Linked DNA regions of Homo sapiens. The protein of the gene in region 2 interacts with the protein of the main gene of each other region in a pairwise test. Each region holds a gene or a part of one and is shown on either strand. Other genes may lie near its edges. The genes, in order: MAPK9, ZNF138, LHX6 and ZBTB8A.

Evidence for each region.
Region 1: the proteins of ZNF138 (region 2) and MAPK9 interact in binary tests that used the Homo sapiens proteins (3 or more experiments, as listed by UniProt).
Region 3: the proteins of ZNF138 (region 2) and LHX6 interact in binary tests that used the Homo sapiens proteins (3 or more experiments, as listed by UniProt).
Region 4: the proteins of ZNF138 (region 2) and ZBTB8A interact in binary tests that used the Homo sapiens proteins (3 or more experiments, as listed by UniProt).

The regions. Positions count from the first base shown.
Region 1 is NC_000005.10:180,240,083-180,247,108, forward strand, and holds part of MAPK9 (mitogen-activated protein kinase 9), read right to left. Parts: exon of another isoform or gene 5,938-7,026; intron 2,674-5,937; coding exon 2,491-2,673; intron 1,074-2,490; coding exon 949-1,073; intron 1-948. UniProt on the Homo sapiens protein: Serine/threonine-protein kinase involved in various processes such as cell proliferation, differentiation, migration, transformation and programmed cell death.
Region 2 is NC_000007.14:64,797,404-64,804,429, reverse strand, and holds part of ZNF138 (zinc finger protein 138), read right to left. Parts: intron 5,240-7,026; coding exon of another isoform or gene 5,032-5,239; intron 1-5,031. UniProt on the Homo sapiens protein: May be involved in transcriptional regulation as a repressor.
Region 3 is NC_000009.12:122,204,954-122,211,979, forward strand, and holds part of LHX6 (LIM/homeobox protein Lhx6), read right to left. Parts: exon of another isoform or gene 5,908-7,026; intron 4,765-5,907; coding exon 4,661-4,764; intron 1-4,660. UniProt on the Homo sapiens protein: Probable transcription factor required for the expression of a subset of genes involved in interneurons migration and development.
Region 4 is NC_000001.11:32,535,215-32,542,450, forward strand, and holds the start of ZBTB8A (zinc finger and BTB domain-containing protein 8A), read left to right. Parts: upstream 1-4,212; 5' UTR 4,213-4,358; intron 4,359-6,361; exon of another isoform or gene 6,362-6,615; intron 6,616-7,236. UniProt on the Homo sapiens protein: May be involved in transcriptional regulation.

The DNA.
Region 1 (7,026 bases), on a different chromosome or scaffold from region 2:
TTATGATATGGATTTAGTTTAATTCAACACGTGGTTTAATAAAGATTTGTCATGTGATATTATATCAACTTTAGAATCAAAATAATTATGAAAAAGTTAACCAAAGAAGAGTTATTATGTTCCTCTTAATAATCACCTGACCTCAAAACGCAGACATCTGCCCAGATGTCATTAGAAACTCATCATCACAGGCTGTTTCCCAGAGACCCATTATGGACAAGGCACTGTGCTGGCAGCTATGGAAGGTACTGTTGTTTCTTAGAACAAATTTTACATTTTCTTCATGGGAGAACTCCCAAATCCAATGTCCAACTCATAAATGGACTGTTATAAAAGTCTGCTTATAAATTGGATTCTTTTTATATAAAACAATGTTTAAACTGATGGCAAAACCACAGGCCATGACATAAACATGTATTTCACTCATGGCATGAAGGAAGCCTGCCACTACGCAGTGATTTCCCTCACAGCTAAAGCTCACTCACACCAGTGCTGACACAGAAACACGCACGTGAGCACCAAACTCAGAGTGGAGCTCCTCCAGCGGGGGAACCAGGAGCTACAATGCCTTTAGGGAAGGATAAACAGACGTGTGATTTTTCAGCAAGTTGCTCAGCCTCTCTGGTTAAGTGGCCTAAACAAGAGGATGTAACCAAAGCCAATGGCACAGAATAGATGCTTAATAAACTATGAGCTCACAGCAGCATTTGCAAAATGGAGACTGGTAGCACCAAAGCGGAAGTTCATTCCCGAGGTACTCTGAGCTGGGGCTCCAGCAGCAAAAGAGCAAGCGACCCAGGTCTCAGACAACACTTGGCCTTTCTGTAACTGGGAGCCCCCAAATGGAGAACTTGCTACCCATATGTAGCCACTCTGGACGGACAGACAAGATCCAAGGAAATATAAGCCTGGCCTCTCTATATAAATCTTTTCAAAACAGATACTCACGGCTTCTGCTTCGGCGGGGTCATACCAAACAGTGATGTATGGGTGACGCAGAGCTTCGTCTACAGAGATCCGCTTGTCAGGATCAATCACTAACATTTTTGATAACAGATCTCTGGCTTGACTTGCTAGGGTGACAACAAATATTAAATTAATGCTGTTAATATGAAACAAACAGAATCATACAATAAAGAACTAAATATGACAACACAGATAGAACAAAGATATATTAATTTTGAGAAATGTTTGATAGGTTCAAGATGAATATAACCCAAAATTTTTTTTTTTTTTTTCGGAGACGGAGTCTCGCTCTGTCGCCCAATGCAGTGGCGCAATCTTGGCTCACTGCAAGTTCCACCTCCCGGGTTCACGCCATTCTCCTACCTCAGCCTCCCAAGCAGCTGGGACTACAGGCGTCTGCCACCATGCCCGGATAATTTTTTGTATTTTTTTAGTAGAGACAGGGTTTCACTGTGTTAGGCAGGATGGTCTCGATCTCTTGACCTCGTGATCCGCCTGCCTCAGCCTCCCAAAGTGCTGGGATTACAGGCGTGAGCCGCCGCACCCAGCCATAACCCAAACATTTTTAAGAAAAAGTCAAATGTCCACTTTCATGACAAACCAGGTTTCCAAATGTAGTTTTACGCCTCTGGATCTGCAAGGGGAAGAGAAACCTGGGCTCCCAGGGTGGTGGGGAAGAGCACCAGGCAGCCTCAGACCAATGTCTGGGCAGGGCCCAAGGCTGGGAAACCACAGCAAGGAAGGTGGCAATTGCCGAGCTGCGGGTGGCACTGCCCAGAGTGTGGGCATGAGGCACGGGGGAGTATTTTTCTCTAAGTCACATCGAAATGAAATTAGAACAGACTTTTCAAACCACACAACAATCTCACATTCCCACAGGATAAAACACTCACAGATGCTTCTGGCTGGCCTAGCTGTATACAGTGCTGGCAACTTACACTTTTTTTTTTAATCTACAGATTGGTATTTAGGAAAAAGAAAAACAAGTTCAATAACTTAGTTAAATATAAGGCTCACCTAGGTTTTGTCAATTAAAGTTCACAACCTGAATAAGCAAAGACTGGGGCTTTTCTGATTAAGGCACAGTTTACCTTCATGCGGACAGAATCAAATCTTTTCTTTTTCCTTAAACAATCACACTGTAGTAAAGGGTGCAGGAGAAGGTGGGGAGGAAGGACCTTTTTCATCGAACAACTGTCACATCGCTTCTGACTCTAGAATCTGCATTAAGTGTTCTTCTTACCTGAAAACTTTTTGAATTCCAGTTGCTGTAACTGTAACATAAGATTCTTTCAGACTGATTTGATTATTTTTATTTTGGCCAAAGGCTTCAATTAAGCCGTCTTATAGAGGATAAAGCTTCTAGACCTTTAAGCTTTCTCTCCTCAGTGCCTTCGTACCTCAGACTTCAGGCCTAAAATGACTTTCTCTCCCAAAACACAGGTTTTTAGAATACAAACATGAAAGAGTGAAAGCACCACCTGAATTACAAAACACAAGTATAAGAAAAAAAGGATATCTTACTTTTTATTTTGTCTCGCTCAGATTCTGATGGGAATATCCAATCTGGAAAGAGTTCTTCAAATTTGATTCCAGGATACTTTGGTCTGTTTTCGACATAATTCCTCACAGTTGGCTGAAGTTTCTTCATGAACTCTGCTGATGGTGTTCCCAGCTGCTCAATAACTTTATTCCACTGATCAATATCTAAGGAGTTTCTTGAGGAAAATACAACTGAAGTACCTTGTATTCACAGTACATGCGGCAGCATCACTTGAATAATATTTAAACCTATCGACTAGGCCACCCCACTGGATCAGCAGCGGAATTTTGAAATAATATTCAAATAAGGTTTGGGTTTCCAAGTTACACTATTTTTTAAAACTCTCACACTCTGCATCTTCATAAACTATGATCACAGTTTATTAAATCAACACAATGAAGTCTACACACCTTCCCACTCTAGTTCAAAATAAAGTTTATCTTATAACTAAGAATACCTATAGCAAAAATGATTAAACACGAAATTAGATAAACATTACATAAGCAAATTGAAATCAGTTTTCATACTAATGCTACCTTAGATTCATTCACAGCTCTCTAAAGAACAGAGGATCTCAAGGGACCTGTGGAGAGACCTATCTGACCTCCTCAGTTTACAGCTGGGAACCAAGCAACTGGGCTTAGACTGAGCCCAGCGACAGCTTTCAAATGATGCTCTATTTTACTTGGAACTGACTCTTCCCAACCATCACTGCGATCCCTAGGTAATGCATTTTATTTCCTTTCAAAGTGCGTGACCTGGGTTTCAGACTCAACTCTGCATTAAACACTCAGTGTGTCAGGAAAGTCAGGCTTCCTTGGGGTCTGTTTCCTTATTTGTTCAATGCAGACATTACCAGCTTTGCCTATTCCACAGGGTGCTTGTTAGGCTTGGGATAATTAGGATTACATGTGGGAAAGTGACACTGAAACTGTACTCGCTATACAAGAGAATGCAAGTGAGAAAAAAATAGCATCAACAGCAGCTTAAAAAAGTGCTCACTGAGGCATGTCTTAGAAAAATGAACTTACATCACCATGAAATAACCTAGGGAACTGGTACATGAACTCAGTTCTTCCAAAATGTTATACTTCCAAAAGACCCGCTCAGGAAATGTGTTTCTGGCATTCAATTCACTAGCAAATTCTCCTTCCTACTCCTGGTTCATACATATTGTCAAATCAGAATTATGCCCACATTTTATTTACCTATTTAGCCAAAATGTGAAAACTGTCTCACACCTTTTCCTTCTGCCATATATACATATATAAATAAAGACAGAGTCTCGCTCTGTCGCCCAGGCTGGAGTGCAGTGGCATGATCTCGGCTGACTGCAACCTCCACCTCCCGGGCTCAAGTAATTCTCGTGCCTCAGCCTCCCAAGTAGCTGGGACTACAGGCACCTGCCATAACGGTCGGCTAATTTTTGTTATTTTTAGTAGAGATGGGGTTTCGCCATGTTGGCCAGGCTGGTCTGGAATTCCTGGCCTCAAGTGATCTGCCTGCCTCGGCCTCCCAAAGTGCTGGGATTATAGGTGTGAGCCACTGCGCCCAGCCCACCTTATACTTTTGATACCTCTTCTGCCTGCTCACTCCCACAGACTTCCCAGGATGCACCCACCCAGCATCTGTGTGCCATTTGCCACACAGCAACCATCTGGGCTCCCGGCTACACTAAGCCTGCTCAGCTCTAGACCCTAACCCCCCTGACTCAAGGACAAGCTCCCTCAACTCTTCCTTCTCCAACATCATCGACATTTTGCACTCTACCAATACATTCCACCACGTTGGTAAATGATGGTGTTTTCTCCTATGTTAACACAGTAGCTGCTTTCCTTTGGCCCTACCTATCGCTTTATTTCTTATTCCTATTTGCAGCAAAAACTTCCATAAAGAGCTGTCGGTCGGGCTCAGTGGCTCACACCTGTAATCCCGGCACTTTGGGAGGCCGAGGCAGGTGGATCACAAGGTCAGGTGTTCAAGACCAGCCTGGCCAAGACGGTGAAACCCTGGCCCTACTAAAAATACAAAAATTAGCCAGGCGTGGTGGCGGGCGCCTGTAATCCCAGCTACTCGGGAGGCTGAGGCAGAAGAATCGCTTGAACCCAGGAGGTAGAGGTTGCAGTGAGCTGAGATCGCATCGCTGCCCTCCAGCCTGGGCAATGGAGTGAGACTCTGTCTCAAAGGAAAAAAAAAAAAAAAAAAGGAAAGAAAAAAGAGCTGTCTACACTTGTGTCTCTAATTCCCAGCCTCTCATTTTCTCTCAAACATACTCCCATCAGGCTTTCTTCCCTCCACTCCATAAATGCTGTGCCCATCATGGCTGCCAGCAGCCATCACAAGGCCCAGGGGCCAATCCCCCGTCCTCATCTCCTCATGTGAATGAGCCTCCCTCAGTCACCACACTCTAGGAGGAGGGGTCACGTGAGTGCCTTCTCCATTTCCTTCCCTATTCCCTTTGTCCCTCCACCTCAAGGGGGCTAAGTCCCGGGTCCTGGTCTCTTCCTCCCCTGCAAGTGCTCGCTACCAGTCCTAGGCTTCAAGGCTACCGACAGACGGATGACACCCACTTTGATCTCTCTATCCCAGACCTTGCCCCTAAATTCCACTGTCTAACAGACATCTCCAAACCCTAGCAAGGCTCCTTGAAGGGTCCAGCTTCAAAGCAGAGTACAAGCCCATCTCCCCGGCCACACCCCTACCCGCCTGCTGGGGGCCTCCACCTCTCCTCTGGATGATGGCAGCCTCTGCTCTGTTCTCCTGCTCTGCCCTGCCCTTGACGATCCACCCTCAATTCAGCAGCTGGGAGGAGCCTCTTTGCATCTCAGTCAGACTAGGCACCCAGAAATGGGCAGGTGAGAGAAATATCTGCTGGGTTAATGATAAAGGACTAGAAATTAAACCAGTTGTGAGAGGAGACCCACAGATTCCCCGAGAGGACTCCACCCCAGCATCCTACAGGTGGGAGGGATGGGGGACAGATGAGAGGGACGGGGGAAGGGGAACAATAATTCCGACAAGCCCAGTGGACCCTGTTGTCTAACTCTCGTGAAGCTGCAGGCAGACCACAGGTCTATTTTACAGAAGGGGAAACCAAGGCTCAGAGAGGCCCTAAATTTCTCAAGGATGCATGGCTGCCAAGGGGAGGAGTCTGAGCTGGGGCCCGAGGTGGCCGGGCTAAAGCTTTCTCTTTCTCATAGACCACCGCAGGGACAGGAGTTCCTTTTCTACCCTGGGTCGCAAATTAAAGCAAATCTCTGAGACCCTCAGTCTGATTTCTGCAACTTTTTTCTATCTCCCAAATTTCAATCTAATATTTGAAAGAGTTGGCAAAATTTTCTTTAGAAAATGATGTTAAACTCTGTGTGGCTTTTGGGAATAACATTAGGTAACCTTATATATAACACTATTAATTACTGACATTAATGTTCATATGTATAGCAGGAATTTTAATTTTACTTACTAAAATGCACCAAAAAGTACTCACATTTTTCATTTTTGTACTTTTTGAAGAAAACATTTTGTAATAAAACAAGGAATGGCACAAAATGAGTAAGAATTGAGACAAACTGAACATTAAGTAGATATTTCTAAATTATTAGTCTTTTAATTTTTCAACTTTTCCCTTTTTAATTAAGTTTACTTGCAAAATAAAGACGTCCTTATTTATAGGTTGCAACAAGTGAATCTGAGATGAGGCTATGGAAACTGCTAGAAAATTTAGTAGAACAAATAAAATAACTTGACATATTATATAATCTATGATATAGAAAATGTAAAGAAAGGTAAATAAAATGAGAGAAATAAAAATATTTTCACTTTAAGTTTGCACTGTGAAGAATTTATAAGGAGACCACTTTGATAAAATTATTAAAATCTGAAATTATTTTCCTAAGATACATACAAAACACTGACTATGGAGCTTGATTTCCTTAAAAGCAACCATCAATCTGCCCAAGGATGGAGACCAATTTAAACTTTCATAACGAAAACAAAGTCAAAGACTAATGAAAAACTAAGTGGTTAAAACACAAATGAAAAAGGGAAGATGTGAAGAACCATGTTAGGGTAAAAAATACTGAGGATGGAAGAATGGCAAATGAGGAAAGAAGGCTATTGTAACAATTAGAGTAGTTATTCTCCTTTCTGCTGTATCTCTAACATGACTTGCTGACTACAGTATGAGTTTATCTCTTTCATTTTACATTTATTTTGACTTCCCCAGTGTGTCACAAAATAACCCACTAGACAGATTTTTAAAAAAAATTCTACAAAATGTCAGCACAGTAACAAACAAGAAAGTTTAACATATTGTTCCTCACAAAATTTTCATTTTAATCTCTTTCACTTAGGTCCTTTGTAATGTGCTTCAGTTCTTACTTTGGGGGAAAATATTTCAATGCATACCAGTAACTAACAAAATAGTACTTAATTAAAGCACACAAGCACACTAGCCTATTAAATTTAGATAGCATCTTTCCTAGTTAAATTAACGGAATAAACTAAATAATACAGTA
Region 2 (7,026 bases):
TCCCCGAGTAAGCAATTCCTGTCCCTTTTAAGGGCTCACAACTCCAAGGGGGTCCACATGAGAAGGCTGTGATCAATTGAGCAAGCAGGGGGTACATGACTGGGGGCTGCATGCACCGGTAATTAGAACGGAACAGAACAGGACAGGGATTTTCACAGTGCTTTTCTATACAATGTCTGTGATCTATAGATAACATAGCCAATTAGGTCAGGGGTCAATCTTTAACTACCAGGCCCACGGTGTGGCGCCGGGCTGTCTGCCTGTGGATTTCATTTCTGCCTTTTAGTTTTTACTTCTTTCTTTGGAGGCAGAAATTGGGCATGAGACAGTATGAGGGGTGGTCTCCTCCCTTATCCCCACCAGAACTTTTTAATGAAGAATTGGAATATGACTTTGTTAATATAGTGGAATATATTTGAGCTTGCATCATGGGTAAGTGAAGAGCTATTACGGTTTTTGGGTGGCCACATCACCCTTGTTTATTTTTCCTGTAACAGCAGCATTCCAATTTAGTGAAACGAAAGACACTGAAGTTATGCTTACCTATAATTATCTCTATTGGATAAATTAGTAACCATGTTATACTAATATCTACTGTAATAATTTGATAGTAACTTTTTTGATTAGATACACTTAGTATAATTTTAATGTACTATTTATAATGTACATAGGATTTTTAAAAATTGTCTGTAACCATAATCCAATTAAAACACTTTATATTCCAAATGTATGAATATAAAAATATTGAAATTACTAAGGGATTCATTCAAAGCAAATATTGTGGTGTTATATTCACACTACTGTATAAAATACTGCTTAATTTATATGAATGCAGTTTGTCTACAAACACTACACATAACTATGCTAATTGTTCTGAAGTAATAAGCAGAAACCAAAGCACAACCACAGACTCCACTGTTCAGTTCATACACTGAACCTCGCTTTTGCAATGTAAGTACTTCAGCCTGCAAATATTAAATAATTACCTTGGATAATCTGTTTTCTGTCAAAGGAGCTTACTTGGTATCTTTTAGTCTTCATCATTCTGTATTGCTAAATGTAATCCTATCTTTGTGCTCAACTTTTGTGTGCTCTTAAAATGAGCTTTAATCTAAACAAATCTGTGTCTACCTTAAAAGATACAGATTAAATGAAAAAAAAAAAAAAAAAACCTTTGCCAAAGCAAAAACAAAGCAATGAATCTGAGGTCCTAGATAAAGACAATCCTGAGTCAAAAACAATGACAAAAGATTTAGCTGTTAATATGATTTACATATCTTTCAAACAACAAAGAAAAAAATCTACATATAATTTAAGTGCTTTAAAGAAAAATAAATTAACAAAATATCCTCCCTTATTTTCATGCAGGAGAATAAACCCTCTTATTTCTAATTTATATTTTCTCCTACAGTGAGATATTGAGAAGTACACAATTGTTATGTAAGAGGGGGGTAGGGAAAAATAGTCACTCATGCCATTGTCTGGCTCAGTGAATCTGCATTTTTTTTTTTTAACATAAGACAAGACAAAACGAGGCAGGGGAACAATCAGATATGCATTTGTGTCTGTTGGGCAGGGGGGTGACTGTATCTGTAAAGATAAGCTATCAGTTTACATTTTAACAGAAACACCTTAGGGTAAAGATCTTGCGGCTCACTAGAAATTTTCTTGTGGGCAAAAGATGGGGGAGGTATGTAGCTTTTCTTCTTGTAGCCATCTTATTTAGGAACTGAGGACTAAGCTCTGAATTTTTTATCTTGCCCAAATTTCTATCTAATTGTTTGTAAGGGGTCATGCCCTACAAACCATAAATTCTCATCAGATGGGTTTTATTTGACCCTATAGATCGTGACTTACTTTCCAATCTGACTCTGGCGTAACATTATGAGACAAGAAAAAAAAAATCAAAATATTTAACACCAAAATATATTTTCTTGCCATGCCTTGAAATTGCCCTGCAAAAGTCTCTTGTGGGAAAAATGTACATTCTATAGACAATCCCCTTTCCTCTTTTGTTTTCCTTCCTTACATTCCAGATCCAGGAGATAATCAATCAACTAAGAGCCAGGCACCTTTTTAAGTCCAGTAAGAAGAAACATTTTTACAACCTGCTGTCTCTGAAGTCTGCTATCTGAGATTCCTCTCCACAATAAAACTTGGTCTCCACAATCCTTTATCTTAACCTGAACATTTTCTTTCTATTGATCCGAGGTCTTCAGATATACTCAACCAACTGTCAACCGGAAAATGTGTAAATTTGCCTATAGCCCGGAAGCCGCCACTTTGAGTTGTTCTGCCTTTCGGACAAATCCATGTATTTCTTAAATGTATTTCATTGATGTCTCATGTCTCCCTAAAATATATAAAACCAAGCTGTAACCCGACCACCTTGGCCTGATCACAGGACCTCCCGAGGGCTGTGTCACAGGCCATGGTCACTCATATTTGGCTCAGAATAAATCTCTTAAAATATTTTACAGAGTTTGACTCTTCGTCAACAGAGCCAAAAGAGGAAGGCAGGTTTGTGTGACCCCGTTCCCAGCTTAACTTTTCTGTTTGGCTTAATGAGTTTTGGGTCCCAAGATTTAATTTCCTTTCACAGGTGCACATGAATAAGGCAAGTTCTTAGAGATTTATGAAGAGACTTAGATTCTGATACAATAGTGGGAGACTACAACACCCCACAGACACTATTAGACACATTATTGAGGCAGCAAATTAAAAAAGAACTAAACTCAATACTTAACCAAATAGCCCTACTAGAAATCTACAGAACTCTCCATCTAAAAACAACATAATATATATTCTTCTCAGCACCATGTGGCACATACTCTAAAATTGACCACGCAATCCAAAATAAAACAATCCTCAGCAATTTCAAACATCCCAAAATTATACCAACCACATACTCAGACCACAGATTGATTAAAATATAATTCAATACAAGGAAAACCACTTGAAACCATACAAGTACATGGAAATTAAACAACCTGTACCTGAATAACTTTTGGGTATATAATAATATTAAGGCAAAATCAAAAAGCTCTTTGAAACAAATGAGAACAAAGTACAGCATATCAGAATCTCTGCAACACAGCTAATGCAGTGCTAACAGAAAAATTTATAGCACTAAATGCCCCCATAAAAAAGTTAAAAAGATCTCAATTTAACAACCTAACATTATGAATAAAATAAGGAGAGAAGCAAGGGGAAACAAACCCCTAAGCTAGCAGAAGGCAAAAAATAACAAGAGCTGTACTGAAGGAGATTTAGACATAAAAAACTATGCAACAGATCAAGAAATCCAGGAGTTAAATCTATTAAAAAAATTAATAAGCTAAATAACCCACTAGCAAGATTAATGAAGATTCAAATAAATACAATTAGAAATGACAAAAGGGACATTACCACTGACCCCAGAAAAATACAAATAACTATTGAAGTCTACTATGAACACTTCCATGCACACAAACTAGAAAATCTAAAAGAAATAGTACATTCCTGAAAAATACATCCTCCCAGGACTGAACAAAAAAGAAATTGAATCTCTGAATAGAACAATAACAAACTACAGAACTGAATTAGTAATAAATAGCCTAGCAACCAAAAAAAGCCCAGGACCAGAGACATCCACAGCTAAATTCTACAAGATGTATAAAAAAAAGAGCTGGTACCATTCTTTCTAAAACTATTCCAAAAAATTGAGAAGACACTCCCTCCTTCAACTCATTAGGTAAGAACAGCATCATTCAGACACCAAAACCTGACACAGATATAAAAAGAAAACTTTATGCAAATATCCTTGAGGACCATTGATATGCAAAAATCTTCAATAAAATACTGGCAAATTAAATTCAGCAGCACACCAAAAAGTTAATCAGTTATGATCAAGTAGGCTTTTTCTCTGGGATATGAGGTTGGTTCAACATACACAAATTAATAAATGTGATTCGTTACATTAACAAAAATAAAGATAAAAACTGCAAGATTATCTTAATAGATGCAGGAGCTTTCAAAAAAATTTTAACATCTTTCATGTTAAAAACCTTCAACAAACTAGGCATTGAAGGTACATATTTCAAAATAACAAGTTATCCAAGACAAACCCACAACCAACGTACTGAATGGACAAACTGGAAGCATTTCTCCATGAAAACTGGCACAAGACAAGGATGCCTTCTCTCACCACTCCTATTCAACACAGAATTGGTAGTCCACACCACAGTTAATCAGGCAAGAGACTAAAATAAAAGGTATTCAATAGAAGAGAAAAAGTCAAACTATCCCTGTTCACAGACAACATAATTCTATATCTAGAGAACCCACAGAAAAGTTCTTCTCTTTTCTGTCTCCACAGAAACGTTCTTTAAACTGAAGAAGTGAAGCAAAATTTCAGAATACAAAATAAATGTACAAAAATTAGTAGGATCCCTGTACATCAGCAGCATCCAAGCCAAAAGCCAAATCAAAAACATAATCCCAGGCTGGGCCTGGTGGCTCACACCTGAAATCCCAGCACTTTGGGAGGCCGAGGTGGGTGGATCGCCTAACACCTGAGGTCAGGAGTTCAAGACCAGCCTGACTAACATGGTGAAACCCCGTCTCTCCTAAACAAAAAATTAGCCAGGCGTGGTGGCACAGGCCTGTAATCCCAGCTACTTGGCAGGCTAAGGCAGGAGAATCGTTTGAACCCGGGAGGTCGAGGTTGCAGTGAGCCAAGATTGCACCATTGCACTCCAGCCTGGGCAACAAGAGCGAAACTCCATCTCAAAAAACAAATAAACAAACAAAAATAAAAACACAATCCCATTCACAATTGCCACAAAAATAATAAAACATCCAGGAATACAGCTGATCAGGCAAGTGAAAGATCTCTACAAGAATTACAAAACACTGCTTAAATAAGTCAGATATGACACAAATATATTGAAAATTACTTTATGCTCATGGATAGAAAAGATCAACATCAGCTGGGTGGCATGACTCAGCCTGTAATCCCAGCACTTTGGGAGGCAGAGGCGGGCAGATCACCTGAGGTTGGGAATTCAAGACCAGCCTGAACATGGAGAAACCCCGTCTTTACTAAAAATATAAAATCAGCTGGGCGTGGTGGCGCATGTCTGTAATCCCAGCTACTCAGGAGGCTGCGGCAGGAGAAATCACTTGAATCCAGAGGCAGAGGTTGCGGTGAGCCGAGATCGTGCCATTGCACTCCAGCCTGGGCAACAAGAGCAAAACTCTATCTCAAAAAAAAAAGAAAAGAAAAGATCAATATCATTAAAATGGCCATACTGCCCTAAGAAATTTACAGATCTAATGTCATTCTTATCAAGCTACCAAAAACATTCTTAACAGAACTAAAAAAACTATTTTAAAATTCATATGAAACCAACAAAGAGCCTGAATAGCCAAGGCAATTCTAAGCAAAAAGAACAAAGCTGGGCATTACATTATCCAACTTGAAACTATTCTATAAGGCTGTAACCAAAGCAGCATGGTAGTGATTAAAAAAAAAAAAAAAAGGCTCATAGAACAATGCAACAGAATAGAGCCAAGAAATAATGCCACACATCTACAACCATCTGACCATCTGATCATCAAAAAAGCTGACAAGATCAATGTAGGAAGAATTTCCTTTTTTTTTTTTTTTTGAGTCGGAGTTTCACTCTTGTTGCCCAGGCTGGAGTGCAATGGCTCAATCTCGGCTCACCACAACCTCCGCCTCCAGGTTCAAGCGTTTCTCCTGTCTCAGCCTCCTGAGTAGCTGGGATTACAGGCATGGGCCACCATGTCCGACTATTTTTTTTGTAGGGTTTCTCCATGTTGGTCAGGCTGGTCTCAAACTCCCGACCTCAGGTGATCCACCCGCCTTGGCCTCCCAAAGAGCTGGGATTACAGGCGTAAGCCACCATGCCCGGCCAGAATTCCCTATTTAATAAAATGGTACTGGAATAACTAGCTAGCACTATGTATAAGATTTTCTTTTTTGTATTTAAAAAAATAGCCGAATTTTTCTTCAGCGGTCAAATAAAATACTTCTTAATCAAAATATAGTTAAGTTTATCTCCTTCCCACAGCTCCTGAACTTTGAGCTACTCAGTCTGAGCCAACATACAACCCCATTTTATGTTTCTCCTAAAAACTTGCTGACTTCAGGGTAAAACATTTTCTAATCTAAAATCTGATTTGGGCTGAGCGTGGTGGCTCACGCCTGTAATCCCAGCACTTTGAGAGGCTGAGAAGAGCAGATCACCTGAGGTCAGGAGTTTGAGACCACCCTGGCCAATATGGCAAAACCCCATTTCTAGTAAAAATACAAAAATTAGCCCGGCATGGTGGTGGGCGGCTGTAATCCCAGCTTCTCAGGAGGCTGTGGCATGACAGTCACTTGAACCCAGGAGGCAGAGGTTGCAGTGAGGTGATATCCAGCCACTGCACTCCAGCCTGGGCAACAAAGTAAGACTCTGTCTCAAAAAAATAATTTAATTAAAAAATAAAAAATAAAATCTGATTTATACACCCTCCATTTGCCATTCCCCTCTCACCTTCTAATCTTTTTTGCTCCTCCCTAAGAAAGCCTTTATCTGCCTAAACTTTGCAATCCTTAAAGATTATATAGTTGGTACTTCCTTCTGTTGCAGTATTTTAGAATTTTTTAAAAAATAAACCTAATTTTGTTTTATTTTACAAAGTCTAGAAACTGCCTCAAAACAATAACAACTTCATCCTGAGTATGACCCTCCCAATCCCCTTCCATCTTAATGTTTACTGCATCTGCCTGTGGGTCTCCAGTTTTCCAGGGCTCTGTAGCTTCTCTCAGTATAAAGGTTCTTCCATGGCTGGGGTGAGCAGGCTCCGACATCCGCAGGGGAGGCTTCCTAGAAAGAACTAACTGGGCCTTTAATAACCTCCCTTCCCTTTGTAGGCTCAATATTAGCCTTAGCTTGCAGTCACTGGCGCAAGCTTTAATTTCCATGTCGGAGTTGTTCAAATGGTTTTTTAAACTGAAAAATTCAGCAAAATTAC
Region 3 (7,026 bases), on a different chromosome or scaffold from region 2:
CTCTGAGCCTGTTTCCTCATCTTTAAAACAAGGATGACAAAATCTCTCTCTGAGAATCAGAGAGATTCAATGAGATACAACAGCAGCAGCAAAAGCCTTCTGGGCATTTCACCCTGCACCTTCTGTGCCTGATTTCACGGAAGCCGCACCATAGCCCCGTGAGGGAGTTCCAACGTTCTGTTTTACAAGGAGGGCACTCAGGCTCAAAGAGGTGGAAGCGAGTGAGCTCGTGGGCACACAGCGAGGAGGAGGACCTGGCACTGGAGGCCAGGCCTGGCTCACAGCAAGCTCTCCCTACCAAAGCACATTGCCTCTACCTTTCCAAGGTCACCGTGACCATAGTGGCTGACTGCTTATTACCCACAGGGCCACGGGCTAAGCACTTCACATGCGCTTAATCTTCACATGCACGAAGCCTAGAAGTGCGTGGCTCAGACACACTGGGTGCCCGATACACAGTGGGAGATCAGGACTGTCTGTCCCTTTCCCCCTCCCACTCCCACCTCTAGCACTTGGTTGACATCTCACTGCTGCTGACACAGCCAGTTCCCTGAAGTTCAGGTCAAGGATCACTGGCTGGCTGGTCAATGGCAATGTGTCATTTCACAGTAAAGTGTGAGGGGCATCTGGTGGGCATGACTACATGGCTGTTCCCTTTTCTGATCAGGAATGTTACTTGCCCAGAACTGGTTATCACAAGGAGGTGATGGAGGAAAGCAATGATGATGATCACCATAATAGTGATCATGATCATAACCAACACCTGGGGGCATTTTCTGTGCACCAGGCTCTGTGCTGGGCTCCTTACACACATTATGCATTTATTCTCTGCAGCAACCCTACGGAGTGGGAACTATTATTATCCCCAGTTTGCAGATGTAGAAACCGCAGCTCAGAGAAACTAATTGCATTCCCAGATCTCACAGGGGAGGTGGCAGAGCTGGGATTCCGAGCTGGCCTAACTCCAGAGTGGCCAGGGTGGGCATTCCTTCCCCACCCTGGCCACTGCTCCACTTTGGCCTCCAGAATGCCTGGCTTTTAGCCCTTATTAGGAAAAGCTCTCTCAAGAGTGGCGACCCTGGTAGGACCCTTCCCCTCCATGGGTCTCAGTCTCCTCCACTGATCAATGACAGCTTAGCCCTGATTTCTAAGAACTTTCCAAGTGTTGGATTTGTGGGATCAGGGGACACAACCAGGAAGAAATGTGGCTCTGGAACCTCACAGGTGTGTGTGGCCAAATGACGATGCGGTGGAGGCAGGGGATGCTCCCCTGAGTGCTCAGAGCACTGTTCTCCTGGCCAGGCCAGTGCTGGTCTAGATGAGTGGGTTCAGGGGCCAGCCCCATGGGGACACTGAGTCTCCTCACAGCTAGGCAGGCTCAGGCCTGGAAGGACTTGGAAGAAAGCCCAGACAATCCTGTGCTGGCCACACACATACCACACCCTGCCGCCCACCAAGCCCCAGGAATTTGAGAGTTATGGACAAGAAAAGTCCCTAGGAGCTGGCGGAAAGGCCTGACAGTGAGAGGACAGAAGGTCATGAAGGAGGGAGAGACACTTTAATGCAGACTTTCTGGGTGCAAAGTTGGGGACACAGCCCAGCAAGGGAAAACTCTGGCTCAGCAGCCAAATCCAGAAGCCAGAAACTGTCTATAGCCAAATCTGACAGCCCCCAGCATGGCTCATCCCCCAGGCTGAATGAGACAGAACCACAAGCTTAGCTGAGCAACCAGGAGGCAAAGGCTCCTCTCCAAGCACTGAGCCCAGCCCTCTGTACCTCCAGGGCCCATCCCTGCCCTCCACATAATGTCCAAGACCCTCTTTCCATGATCCTTTGTTCTGTGGCCCCTGTCGGCTCTCCCCACTTCCCTGGACCTCAGCCACACTGAACGTCCCCCAGGGTCCCCTCCGGCCCAAGCTCCTCCATGCCTCTGGGCCTTTGCACATGCGGTTCTCTTGATGTGGAACACCCTTCTTCTTGTCCCCTGTCTCTCCCCTAGAGCTCACTGCCTCCTCTTCTGGGTCCTCTAAGGTCAAGTTTCTCGCCTACTCCAGCTGCCCATTCCCCTGCAATGTAACTGCCCACACCCTGTGCTAAGCCACAAGCTCCCTGAGGGCAGGGATCATGTCAGCTCACTTCTGCAGTCCCAGAGCCAGGTCTAATAGGATGAATCCCCTCCCACAGGAAGGGACAGCTCTGAGGCAGGTGGCTCTAGGATCCCGGCCAGTTCTGCCCATGCTCACATTGTGATTCTGGATGAGCACTGCTCTGTCTGAGCCTCCGTTTCTGCAAGTGTGAAATGGAGGTCATCGCAATCACCCTCCCAGGGAGACTATGAAGGATGAGGTCGGAGAGAGGGCTGTGTACACAATGAAGTGCTGCACAAAAGGAAGTGATTACTGAGCCGCGCAGACTTCAGAGTCCGACAGACTCGCTGCATCCCTGGACAAGTCATGTCACCTCTCGGAATCTGTTTATCTCTTTACAATGAGAAGGCCATCTCTATGTCCACAAAGTGGCTGGGAGGTGTGAACCAGATGCCATGTGAGAAGTAGCTGCCTTGAACAGAAGGAGCTCAGCAAACGGCAGCTCTTCCTATGGATGTGACAGTCTCAGCGGCGATGGTGTTCCTGGGGCATGCTCACTCACTACAGATTCTGCAGGATTTTACGTTAGGCACTACCATTTATTTACAAATGTATCTGTCCAGGGCTGTCTGTACCTCCACACCATACACATTCTCCTGTGGTGCCCGGCACAGAGAGCTCAGTACATACTAGGTGTACTGAGCTCAATCAGGAGGCTGAGCCAGAGGTACCATCCTAAAGGAGCTGTCCCCACCCCGGCTGCCCGTTAGAATCACACAGGCTGAGTATTACACTCGCAGATCCCTATATCCCACCCCAACAGACTCTCTGAGAGCGAGGCTTAGGAATCTCTGTATATTTACAAGCTGCCCAGGTGATTCCGAGCACACCAAGACCGGGATCTGCTGAACTGGAGGGCTCCTGACTCCAGCCCTAATGCTCTGACCCTCTCCCTCCGAGGGACTGCCACACCCACTGACCTCCAGGGATCCCTGCTTCCTACTGGGTGTCCTCCAACCCAGCAGTCTCTGAAGACTGCTACAGTGATGTTTCTGCAGCAGGCCCTCCAGGACCCCACACTGCCGCAGCATAAAATACAGACTCTTCCACCTGGCAGCCTCAAGGCTCTCGCTTTCCTCCTCTCATCCTCCCAGACATGCCTGCCAACAATGCTGAATGGCTCAGGGTTCCCTGAGAGCTCTGGTGTCTCATGCCTTCCCTGATGCCTCAGCTTTCAGGCCTGGCCTTAGAGGTTGCCTCTTCTGGGAAGTCTTCCCTGCCTCTCTCCTTTGCCCCCTTCCCCCTCCCCAGCTCCCATGGCTTCCCCTGTCACACTGTATTGTAACTGTTGGGATCTGCCTCCCCCTCCAGACTCTGGCCTCCTCAAGGGTAGGGACCACACTTTACTTGTTTCCACTCCTAGCAACAGATTCATGGATGCTGGGCACAGACAAGACATAGGAAATGTCTCCAAATAAACAAGTCAGTGAATTAAAAAATGTAAGGTTCGGCCGGGCACGGTGGCTCACGCCTGTAATCCCAGCACTTTGGGAGGCTGAGGCGGGTGGATCACCTGAGGTCAGCAGTTCAAGACCAGCCTGGCCTACGTGGCGAAACCCCATCTCTACTAAAAATACAAAAAAATTAGCTGGGCATGGTGGTAGGCGCCTGTAATCCCAGCTACTTCGGGAGGCTGAGGCAGGAGAATCACCTGAACCCAGGAGGTGGAGGTTGCAGTGAGCCGAGATTGCGCCATTGCACTCCAGCCTGGGCGATAAGAGTGAAACTCTGTCTAAAAAAAAAAAAAAAAAAAAAAAGCAAGGTTCTCATCCAATCTCTGACTTTGAGCTATCTGGGCCTCAACGTTCCCATTTCTAAAATGAAGGGTTGTCTGACAGCACTGGCTTTCGAGGCTAACTGTGAGGTGTCTTGGAGCTGGGAGGGAGGTAAGTCTCCTCCTCTCTCCATGGTTTCAGAGCAGCTCCATCCACCTTCATCTGCACTATGGACAAGTTTAAACAAAGGGTTGCATTGCTTCAGAAATAATACCTTGAAGCCCTGGAATGGGGACAGCTAAGCACCCTTTTAGAAGTGCAGTCCTAAAGCCTGAGACAACCAGAAATCCTGGCTCCACAGAGGAGGCCCTGCCAGTTGACCAAGGTCACTGGCTGGCCAGCTATCCCTGAACCCCATCAGCTCAGGATATTCACTCCCAACAGACAAGAATGAAAAGGAGAAACCAGTGAGATGATGGGAAGTGGGGTGATGAGTGATATAAGCCCTCCCTGGAACTTAAAGCTTGAGTAAAGGAAATTCACAAATCTAAGACAGAGCAGGGCAAACTGCCAGTGGGGAGCTGCAAGGAGGCCTTCGGAGTGGCCATGCACACAGAACACACTAGCAACCACCGCTCCAGTGACTGCTGTGGGGGTGCGGTGGGGGTCTCAGCAGGCCGGGCAGACAGGGTCTGCCACAGCGCAGCATGGTACCAAATGGTTAACAGAGGATGCTGCCAGAAACCCATCCCCAGCAGGGTGGCTCTGACCCACCAGACCCAACCTGGCTCCATTTACCTTCTCACCCCGGTTGGAGAGCGGCCCATCCATATCGGCTTTGAGGTGGACGGGGGGTGCGGTGTAAGGCAGCCGGCAGTGCACCTGCCCGCACTGTACCTGACCTGTGGACGAGAGGATGCCTTGGAGCTCATCCCCCAGGCTGCACACAGGATCCCACCTGCCCCGTGCTCTCTACAGACTGGAGCCCTGAAACCAGTTTCATCTCTGCCACTTACCTCCTGGGTAGCCCTGGGCAAGGTTTCAGTAGGGTTGGTTGTGATGATCTTTTTTTTTTTTTGAGACGGAGTCTCACCTTGTCGCCCAGGCTGGAGTGCAGTGGCACGATCTTGGCTCACTGCAAGCTCTGCCTCCCAGGTTCAGGCCATTCTCCTGCCTCAGCCTCCCAAGTAGCTGGGACTACAGGTGCCCACCACCACGCCCAGCTAATTTTTTGTATTTTAGCAGAGACGGGGTTTCACCGTGTTAGCCAGGATGGTCTTGATCTGACCTCATGGGGTTTCACCGTGTTAGCCAGGACGGTCTTGATCTCCTGACCTCATGATCTGCCCGCCTCGGCCTCCCAAAGTGCTGGGATTACAGGCATGAGCCACCGTGCCCGGCCAATTGTGATGCTCTTTATAAAGAGCTACGTGAGAGTGAGGTATAACCATCTAGCTCACTGATAAACACTCCTAAATAAATATGTGTTTTCATATTCATGCGCATGCAAGCAAGTCTGTACCCTGCCTATTCAGGCCCTGCAAGCAAGGCTGTGCCCCATCTATTCAGACCCTCCCTCAGTAAGTTCATATCTCTTAGGTATCACCATGACTTTACCCATGCCTCTTAGAGGACTCTGTACTCGTATGTCACCTCTCTCTTTACGACTGCAACCAACACCAACACCTATCTCCTACCCTCCCTGTCTTCCTCCCGGCTTTATTTCCTTAGCACTTATCATCTGACTTAACTGCATTTTTGTTTGAGACAGGGTCTCACTCTGTCACCCAGGCTAGAGGGCAGCGGCATCATCTCTGCTCAGTACAACCTCTGCCTCCTGGGTTCAAGTGATTCTCCCACCTTAGCCTCCTGAGTAGCTGGGACTACTGGCATGTACCATCATGCCCAGCTAATTTTTGTATTTTTTGGTATAGAGGGGGTTTCACCATATTGGCCAGGCTGGTCCTGAACTCCTGACCTCAAGTGATCTGCCCACCTCGGCCTCCCAAAGTGCTGGGATTACAGGTGTGAGCCACCACGCCCAGCCTGACTTACTGCATATTTTTATTATTTATTTGATATTATCTGTCTTTGCCAACTAGAATGCAAAGCTCCACGAGGGCAGGAATTTTTTGTATGTTTTCTAGATTCTAGATCTTTGTGGATTTCCAGCACCTAGAGTGAGGCATGGCATTTAGTAGGTACTCTTAAGTATGTGCTGAATGAATTTCTATACCATATTCCAACATCTAAAACTGTTGGGGAAAGTCCACCTTTGGGTCGGATCCAAATTTCTCATGCTTCAGCCTGTTTATCACTACAGCGGAGAAGTCCATTGCTGGTCTCTTCTTTAGGCTTCATTCTCTTTGGTCACAGGGAAAGGGCATTGTAGAGACACTTACAACTGATATATAAACCGGGACAATTCACTGTGCCCTTCTGAGCCACAGTTCTCCCATTTGTAGAATAAAGGAGTTATATTAAATTGGGAGTTCTTCACCTGGGGTGTTCAAGGAGTCCATATACAACTTCAGATTACTTGGAAAATGTATGTACATCTGCATTTTTCTGGGGTCTGGTTCCAAAGCTTTTATCAGATTCCAAGCTCGAAGCCTCCAGGAAACTCAGTATTCTGTGACTTTAGTTAACCGCAGAGCAAACTCTACAGAAAAACTCATTTTTCTGGGGTCTGGTTCTAACACTTTCATTAGCTTCCCAGCTTAAGGCTTCAGAAAATTCACAACTCCATGACTGTAGTTTACCATAGAGCAAACTGCTGTGGTGACTCTCAGTCAGTCATGCAGCAGGAGGTGCAGGTGCACACACCCCCAACCTCTTCTTCCCCAAGCTGAGTTCCACCACAAGGGTAAGAGGAGAGGGCACCTCAGCCTCTTCTCTAAGCAGCAAAGACAGATCTAAGTTTGGTCAACAGAGTGTATGGACAGAGTCCTGGCAGGGACTCTGGAGGTCATGGCCCCAAGTCCAAAGGGATCATCTAGATTTCTTATTGACTCTACACCAAGTATTAGCAGGTAGCTCAGACCCCTGGTACTTATAGCGCCCCTGATCCTTGGCACCTTTAACAGGCTCTGTGCAGCCTGAATATAGTTATTGTTTAGAAAAGAAAGGGGGAAAATGTCGCTCCTATTGAGCAGATAGTTCAG
Region 4 (7,236 bases), on a different chromosome or scaffold from region 2:
AAACATGACCCCAAATTCTGTGACATTCTTTCCATTAGAGATAGCAACTATGTCCCCCTTCTGCTTGAATCTTAGTAGGCTGGGACAACTTCCATAGATAGGCAGAAAAAGTCATGCAGCTCCCTCCTACCTGTCTTGGACACACTCTGTCAGAACCCAGCTGCCATGATGCAGGAAGCCCCAGCCCCACAGAGAGGTCATGGGTAGGTGCTCTAGATGACAAATCTCAGCTGAGCCAACCTTCAAGTGATCCCAGCCCAGGTGCCAAACCTTTAAGCGAAGAAACCTGCAGATGATTCCAGTTCCCAGTAGTTCAAGTTACCCCCAGTCATTTAAGTCTTCCCAGCTAAGGCTCCAGACAACAGGAAAAAAAAAAACAAGCCACCCCTGCTGTGACCTGACCCACAGAATCCAGGAGCATAATAAAATAGCTTCAGTTTTCTACTACTAAGTAAGTTTGGTTTGGTTTATTACACAGTAAAAATAACTGGAACATCCCCTTTATAAACCAGTTTCTGAGAGGAATTGTCTGTTCTCATCATCTCTATTCCTTCATCCTCCACTTATTCCTCTAATCTGGAAATCCACCCCATCTTTTAAGCCTAATCATGTTCTCTAAAGTCAATGATCTCCAACTTGTTAAATGTAATGGACATTTTCTTTTAGATTTGTTCTCTTAGCAATATTTAGCACTACTGCCCAATTCTTCCTTTTTTCCTTATTTTTATAGCTGGGTTCTCGCTCTGTCACCCAGGCTGGAGTAGTAGTGATGCCATCATGGCTCACTGCAGCCTAAAGCTCTTGGACTCAAGCGATCTTCCCACCTCAGCCTCCTAAGTAGCTAAGCCTACAGGCACAAACAACCAAGCCCAGCTAATTTATTTTATTTTTTTTGTAGAGATCGGGTCTCATTATGTTGCCCAGGCTAGTCTGGAACTCCTGGCCTTAAGCCAACCTCCTGCCTCAGCCTCCCAAAGTGCTGGCATTACAGGTATGAGCCGCTGTGTCTGGACTCTTCTTTTAGTTTTTATGCCATCACATTATCCCAGGTCTCTTCCTTCCTCTCCAGTCTTCTCACACTCATTTGCAATTTCAGCTTCCTCTAACCACCCACTAGATGAGGAAGTAGCTCAATGTTTGGTCCTAAGCCTTCTTTGCTTCTCATTTTATATTCTCTCTCTATGCATATCCATGGTTTTAATTCCCATCCCACCTATATGACTTTGATGATGAAATTTCTTTTTTCTTTTCTTTTTTTTTTTTTTTTCAGACGGAGTCTCACTCTGTTGCCCAGGCCGGAGTACAGTGGCATGATCTCAGCTCTCTGCAACCTCCACCTCCTGGGTTCAAGTAGGAATTTTTTTTTAATTTAAAAATTTTAAAAATCCTGCCCTTCTAGTCCTCTCTCTCTCAGTGAACAGAACCACCATCTGTCCAGTTCCAAAAGGCTGGGAGTTGTCTTTGACTCCTCCTTCTCCCTCATTTCTCAGAGTCAAACTATTATCTCTAATATTTAACTCTCCACCTCACTTGATCTCCCCACTTCTATCTACCTCCACTCTAGTTCAAGATTCTACCATCTCTTAGCTGGGCCACTGTGATCCACTCTTCCTTCCCTCTAATTTATCTTCCACAGTCATCTTTTCAAAATGCTTACCTCATCATAGCACACACACCCCATGCAGCTTAAAACACATTAATGGCTCCCAAAGTTCTTAACCTGGCCCGACAAGGCCCTGATGGTCTGACCCCTGCCTCCCTCTCCCATCTTATCTCTTGTCTCTCTCCCTCACGTTGCACTCCAGTCTCATCAGCCTTTCAGGCTATATTCCCATCTACCAAGCACCATTTTGCTCCTTCTATCTGGAATGCTCCTGACCACTCACACGCTTGCCTGTTAATTCCTACTCCAGATTTCCAGTCAAGATAACCTCCTCAAGGAAGTCCTCCTTACACAAACCCTCTCCCTCATGAGACGGGTCCCCACTTCATCAATATTCTCATCACACGACATACCTTTCCTTCAGACTTATCCAATTTTCAAATTATACATTTATTTGATTACCATCTGTCTCCCCCACTAGACTGCAAATCCCATAAAAGCAGGGACTTGGTGAATTTTTTGCTCACCACTGCATTCCAAGAGCCTAGAGCAAAAACTTTACCCTTAGCAGGCACTGTTAAAATTGGAATGGGACCAGGTGCGGTAGCTCATGCCTGTAATCCCAGCACTTTGGGAGGCCAATGAGGCTGGATCACGAAGTCAGGAGTTCAAGACCAGCCTGGCAACCTGGTGAAACCCTGTCCCTACTAAAAATACAAAAATTAGCCAGGCGTGGTGGCGGGCACCTGTAATCCCAGCTACTCTGGAGGCTGAGGCAGAGAATTGCTTGAACCTGGGAGGCGGAGGTTGCAGTGAGCCGAGATTGCATCATTGCACTCCAGCCTGGGTGACAGAGCAAGACTCCGTCTCCAAAAAAAAAAAAAAAAAAAAAAAAAAAAAGGAATGGATTATCTTCCTCAAGATTTGAACTGAATAGGTGGAAACAGGGATGGGGGTTGGGTGGGGTGGGAGACAGAGTTTAAGAGACTAGCACTGGTTAATGGTGGAGCTCTAGCATACAGAAACGTGCTCCCAAAGCTAGGAGAATGAAGGTGAGGGACAAAACTCTCATTACCTCTTCCTTGCAACAAAGAGGTTATTTTTGTTTGTTGTTTTTGTTTTTGTTTTTGAAATGGAGTCTTGCTCCGTCACCCAGGCTGGAGTGCAGTGGCACGATCTTGGCTCACTGCAAACTCCACCTCCTGTGTTCAAGCCATTCTCCTGGTTCAGCTGCCCCAGTAGCTGGGATTACAGGCGCGCACCACCATGCCCAGCTAATTTTTGTATTTTAAGTAGAGATGGGGTTTCACCATGTTGGCCAGGCTGGTCTCAACCTCCTGACCTCGTGATCCGCCCACCTCGGCCTCCCAAAGTGCTGAGATTATAGGTGTGAGCCACCACACCCGGCCTCAACAAAGAGTTTATCACCAACCTGATGTGCTCTCTTGAGGAATATGTTTGTGGAACTCTTTTGCATGTTTTAATTAACTAAGGCTAAAATAAAACCTTTGGCTAAAACCATGTCCAGGTCTTTCTGGGGGAATTCTCAATGGGGGCGCTAGCAGAGTAATCTGAGTACATCCAACACACCAGACACCTAATGGTTTTCAAATATGTTTCTACTTACCTGTTCAGAAGGTGAGGAAATGCAACTAAATAGCAAAGCACCTCTGCAGTGACACAGAAGTGACATTGAGACAATTGTGAATATCTTGTATCCTCAAAATGCATAGCTAATTATTCCTGAAATCAAAGTTACAAACTGTCCAATATGAATGATTTTGAACAGGAGAGGAATCCATTAAAAGCTAAACGCAAGTTTTGATAATTTGAACCTTTTCCCTCCAGTTTTACTATAACACAGTACTTTTCAGTACCTGACCCCAGCATAAGGAACTAGAAAACTAATTTATAGAAGTAATGCTTCTACAGTAACAGTGAAAATCCATTGATTTACTATTTTAGCAAATGTATAACCTGATATCTGTACTCTAAATATTAGAGACGTAAATTTGTCAGAGGAAGCTTGGTGTACGATGAATGCTTGCATTGGAAAAGACGCAACTTGCTATTTTTACTAATTTTATATTTCTCTGGACTTAACTAAGAATTATGTTCTCTTATCTCAGCCTCTCTGGGTTTTCCTATTCAAATGAAATGCTTCTGACCTGTACAGGTTTAGAAAAGGTTATCCTCAACTAAAATAACTGCTTCAGTACAAGGGAAAATTCTGTGGAAATCTTTTGCATTTGACGTTGCTAAACTTAAGTACAATAATGTCACATGTACTTATACAGTAATTGTGGGCACGCCTAAGTCCCTCCCTCTTTCCTAAACCAAATCCCCAGATCCTAGAAATCCAGCCCTTCTGCCCTCCGGAGGCGCCTTTCCCAACGTAAAGTACAATTTTAAATTTCAGCTCCTGACTAAAATCATGATCCGCAGTCAACTGCTAGAGAATCTGGGCACCCCGGTGTCTCTGGAGCGTGCAGCGAGTGTGGGCAAGGGCAGGGGGAGTGGGCGAAGCTGCTGGTTGGTGCCTGAAATCTGTGCGTTGCCCCTTTAATTGTGTCCCCAGCCCTCGGGCGTTTCTGTCCAACGCCCACGTCAGCAAATACCTTTTGTTTCTCTCACGTTGGGGCTACTTGTTTTAGGGCGCAAAGGAACGGCCTCGAAAGGGGGTCCTTCCCCAGCCGAGAACCAGGAATCTTCCCTCGGCCCGCGCGCGCGACCGGCCGGTGCGCCGCGGCCCGCGGTAAGTGGCTGCACGCGGCGCCGGCGGAGGGCGGGCGGGCGTCGGGGCTGCCCGGGACCCGCCGCGAGCCTGGCCGCGGGCTCTGACGGCCCGGGCGGCGGCAGTGCTGGGATGCGGGCCCCGGGCGCGCCTCCCCCAGACGTCCCCGGGCCGGGAGCGCGGCGGGAGGCGCCCGGGAGGGGCTGCGGGACAATGGCCGCGCCGTCGCCGCCCGCGCCCGCCTCGCCGCCCGGCCCGGCCCGGGGAAAGGCGGGAAGGCGCGCGGAGCCTCCTGGAGGCGGCGGCGGGAAGGCGGCGGGGACGGCGCCGGGCGTGTCTGGAGCCGTCGGGCGCCGCGGACTCTGGAGGGGCTCGGGCTGCGCGGAGCAAAGACGGGCGGCCGCCGCGGGGGCGCGCGGGGAGGGCAGGGCAGGGCCGGGGCCGGAGTCTCTGCGGGCGCGGCCAGGGGCGCTGCCGGGGAACCTGGCTCCCAGGGCAGTAGCCCGAGTTTCTCGGTGCAGCCTCCATCCTTGGTTTTATGTCAAGATGCGACATCTGGGCTTAGAACCGAGGGCGAACTCACCGCGCCTAACCAATGTTGAGCTCCCAACTATTTGCTTCTGGACGGAACCTTACATGCTCATCTCTACCCATGCGGACCGCCTCTTTTGTGAGTTAGTCAGCGGCTTGTTCCCTTCCCCTTCAGATGCGCTTATGTATCCCCGATTGTTCCAATGGCCCTACTCCACATCATTCTAAGACGCGTTTGGAAGCGGTAGATTCACACACACCTGGTGGGCTTCTAACCACACACGTCAATATCACCTCTATGCTTGATAAACCTTTATAGTTGCACAACTTTAAATGGAGTGCTTTCACCTATATGAATTATTTCACTTAATTTCACATAAAACAACCACCTAGTCAGGCTGACGGTAATTCCACTTTGCAGATGAGGGAACACGTATGAAGCATGGCGTTTCACCTCTAGGCTAGGGTGACCATAGCCGCCCAGGGCCTCCTGTTCCCGCCCTGCCTTCCCTCCTAAGGCACCTCCAGAGGAGTCTTTAGAAGGGCCAGTCTTAACACAGCGCTTCCCTGCTCTAAAAACCTTAACTGATCTTTTTCAGGAAAGCCTCCAAAATCCTCAACAAGCTTCTGCTCCAGTCTTATCTCCTCCATGCCTCAGGTATGGATGCGTTTGTAGACTGGAGCAAGAGCCCCTCACTGATAAGCAGGGATCAGATGTCTTTATTCCTGGGAACCTCTCTGGCCACACAAGTGGCAACTGGGAAGTGAGAATCTGGCTTAGGGCCCTTGATCAAATGGGTGTCTGGGTGGATTGTGCTCTAAAATGTCAGCAGGAGGCATAATGAGTAGGGACTCCAGGAAGGAGGCCACACCACTAACCCTTATCTCCTAGCCCTGAAATCACCAGCTTCGCTGTTGATAATGATTTGGGGCCATCAAAAACTTTGTAAGATAGAGTAATTTAATTCATCGTATGTCATTTAAATCTAATTTTTAGATAAAACTGTGTAATAGACTTAACTCAGTGACACAATGATATGTTAATCATATTTAAAGATTTGATGTGTTTGATTCCCTTGAATGAAGCTTTTGCCACTTTTCTGCTCAAAATTGGTCAGTGGCTCCCCATCTTACGCAGTTTAAAAGCCAAAAGCTCCATAATAGTCTATGCAGCCTTACAAGCACCTGGTCTCACCATGTCCTACTTCTCTCATGATCTGCTTTCCCTTTCTGACTCCATATCCCATTGCTTCCCCCATGCCTCCTTGCCTGCTCACCTCAGGGCCTTTGCACTTGCCGTTCCCTTTGCCTGAAATGCTCTTCCCCCAGACACCCACATGACTCTCTTACTTCCTTTGGACTTTACCCAAATGCCATCTTCTCAATGAGGCTTTCCTCAACTATAGTTTTGATTCTCTTAAGTGTTTTTATTAATTCTAAATCTTTTCTGTCTCAGGCCATTTGTGCAGCTATAAAAATACTTTGGGACTGGGTAATTATAAAGAACAAATTTATTTCTCACACTTCTGGAGGCTGAGAAGTTTAGGCAGTTTGGTGTCTAGTGAGGGCTGCTCTTTGCTTCCAAGATGGCACCGTGTTGCTGCATCCTCTGGATGGGAGGACTGCTGTGTCCTCACGTGGCAGAAGGAATGGAAGGGCAGAAGAGGCTAAACTCACTCCCTCAGGTGCTTTTATAAGGGCACTAATTCCATCCATGAGGGCAGAGTCTTCGTGGCCCAATCACCTCCTAAAGATGATACCGTTGCAATCGGGATGAAGTTTCAACATGAATTTTGGAGGGGACACAAATGTTCAAACCATAGCTCTTAAATGTTTTTAATACAGACGATCACTGACTTACAATGGCTTGACTTACGATTTTTTGACTTTACAGTGCGTTTAATGGGGTATTAAATGCATTTTAAACTTACAATGTTTTCAACTTAAAATAGGTTTATTGGAATGTAACCCCATCGTCAGTTGAAGAGCATCTGTACTTAATTCTAAATCTTCCAAAGCTGAAGGATCATTTATCCATCAAGGAATACAGTTACCACTCTAGTTAGCTGAAGTTCTTTATGACTCAGGAACGTTTGCTAAGCAGGCTAACAAGATTAGTTTTGCTGACCCTGGTGGGACACATTAAATTTTAGATTAATGACTATATATCTTAAAAGAGTTGATCTTCCCAGCCGAGTGTGGTGGCTCACACCTATAATTCCAACACTTTGGGAGGCCAAGGCCTCGGGGGTCGGGGGGGCGGGGTGTGGATCACGAGGTCAGGAGTTCGAGACCAGCCTGGACAAGAAGGTGAAACCCCATCTTCTTTACTAAAAATACAAAAATTAGCACACAGTGGCAGGCACCT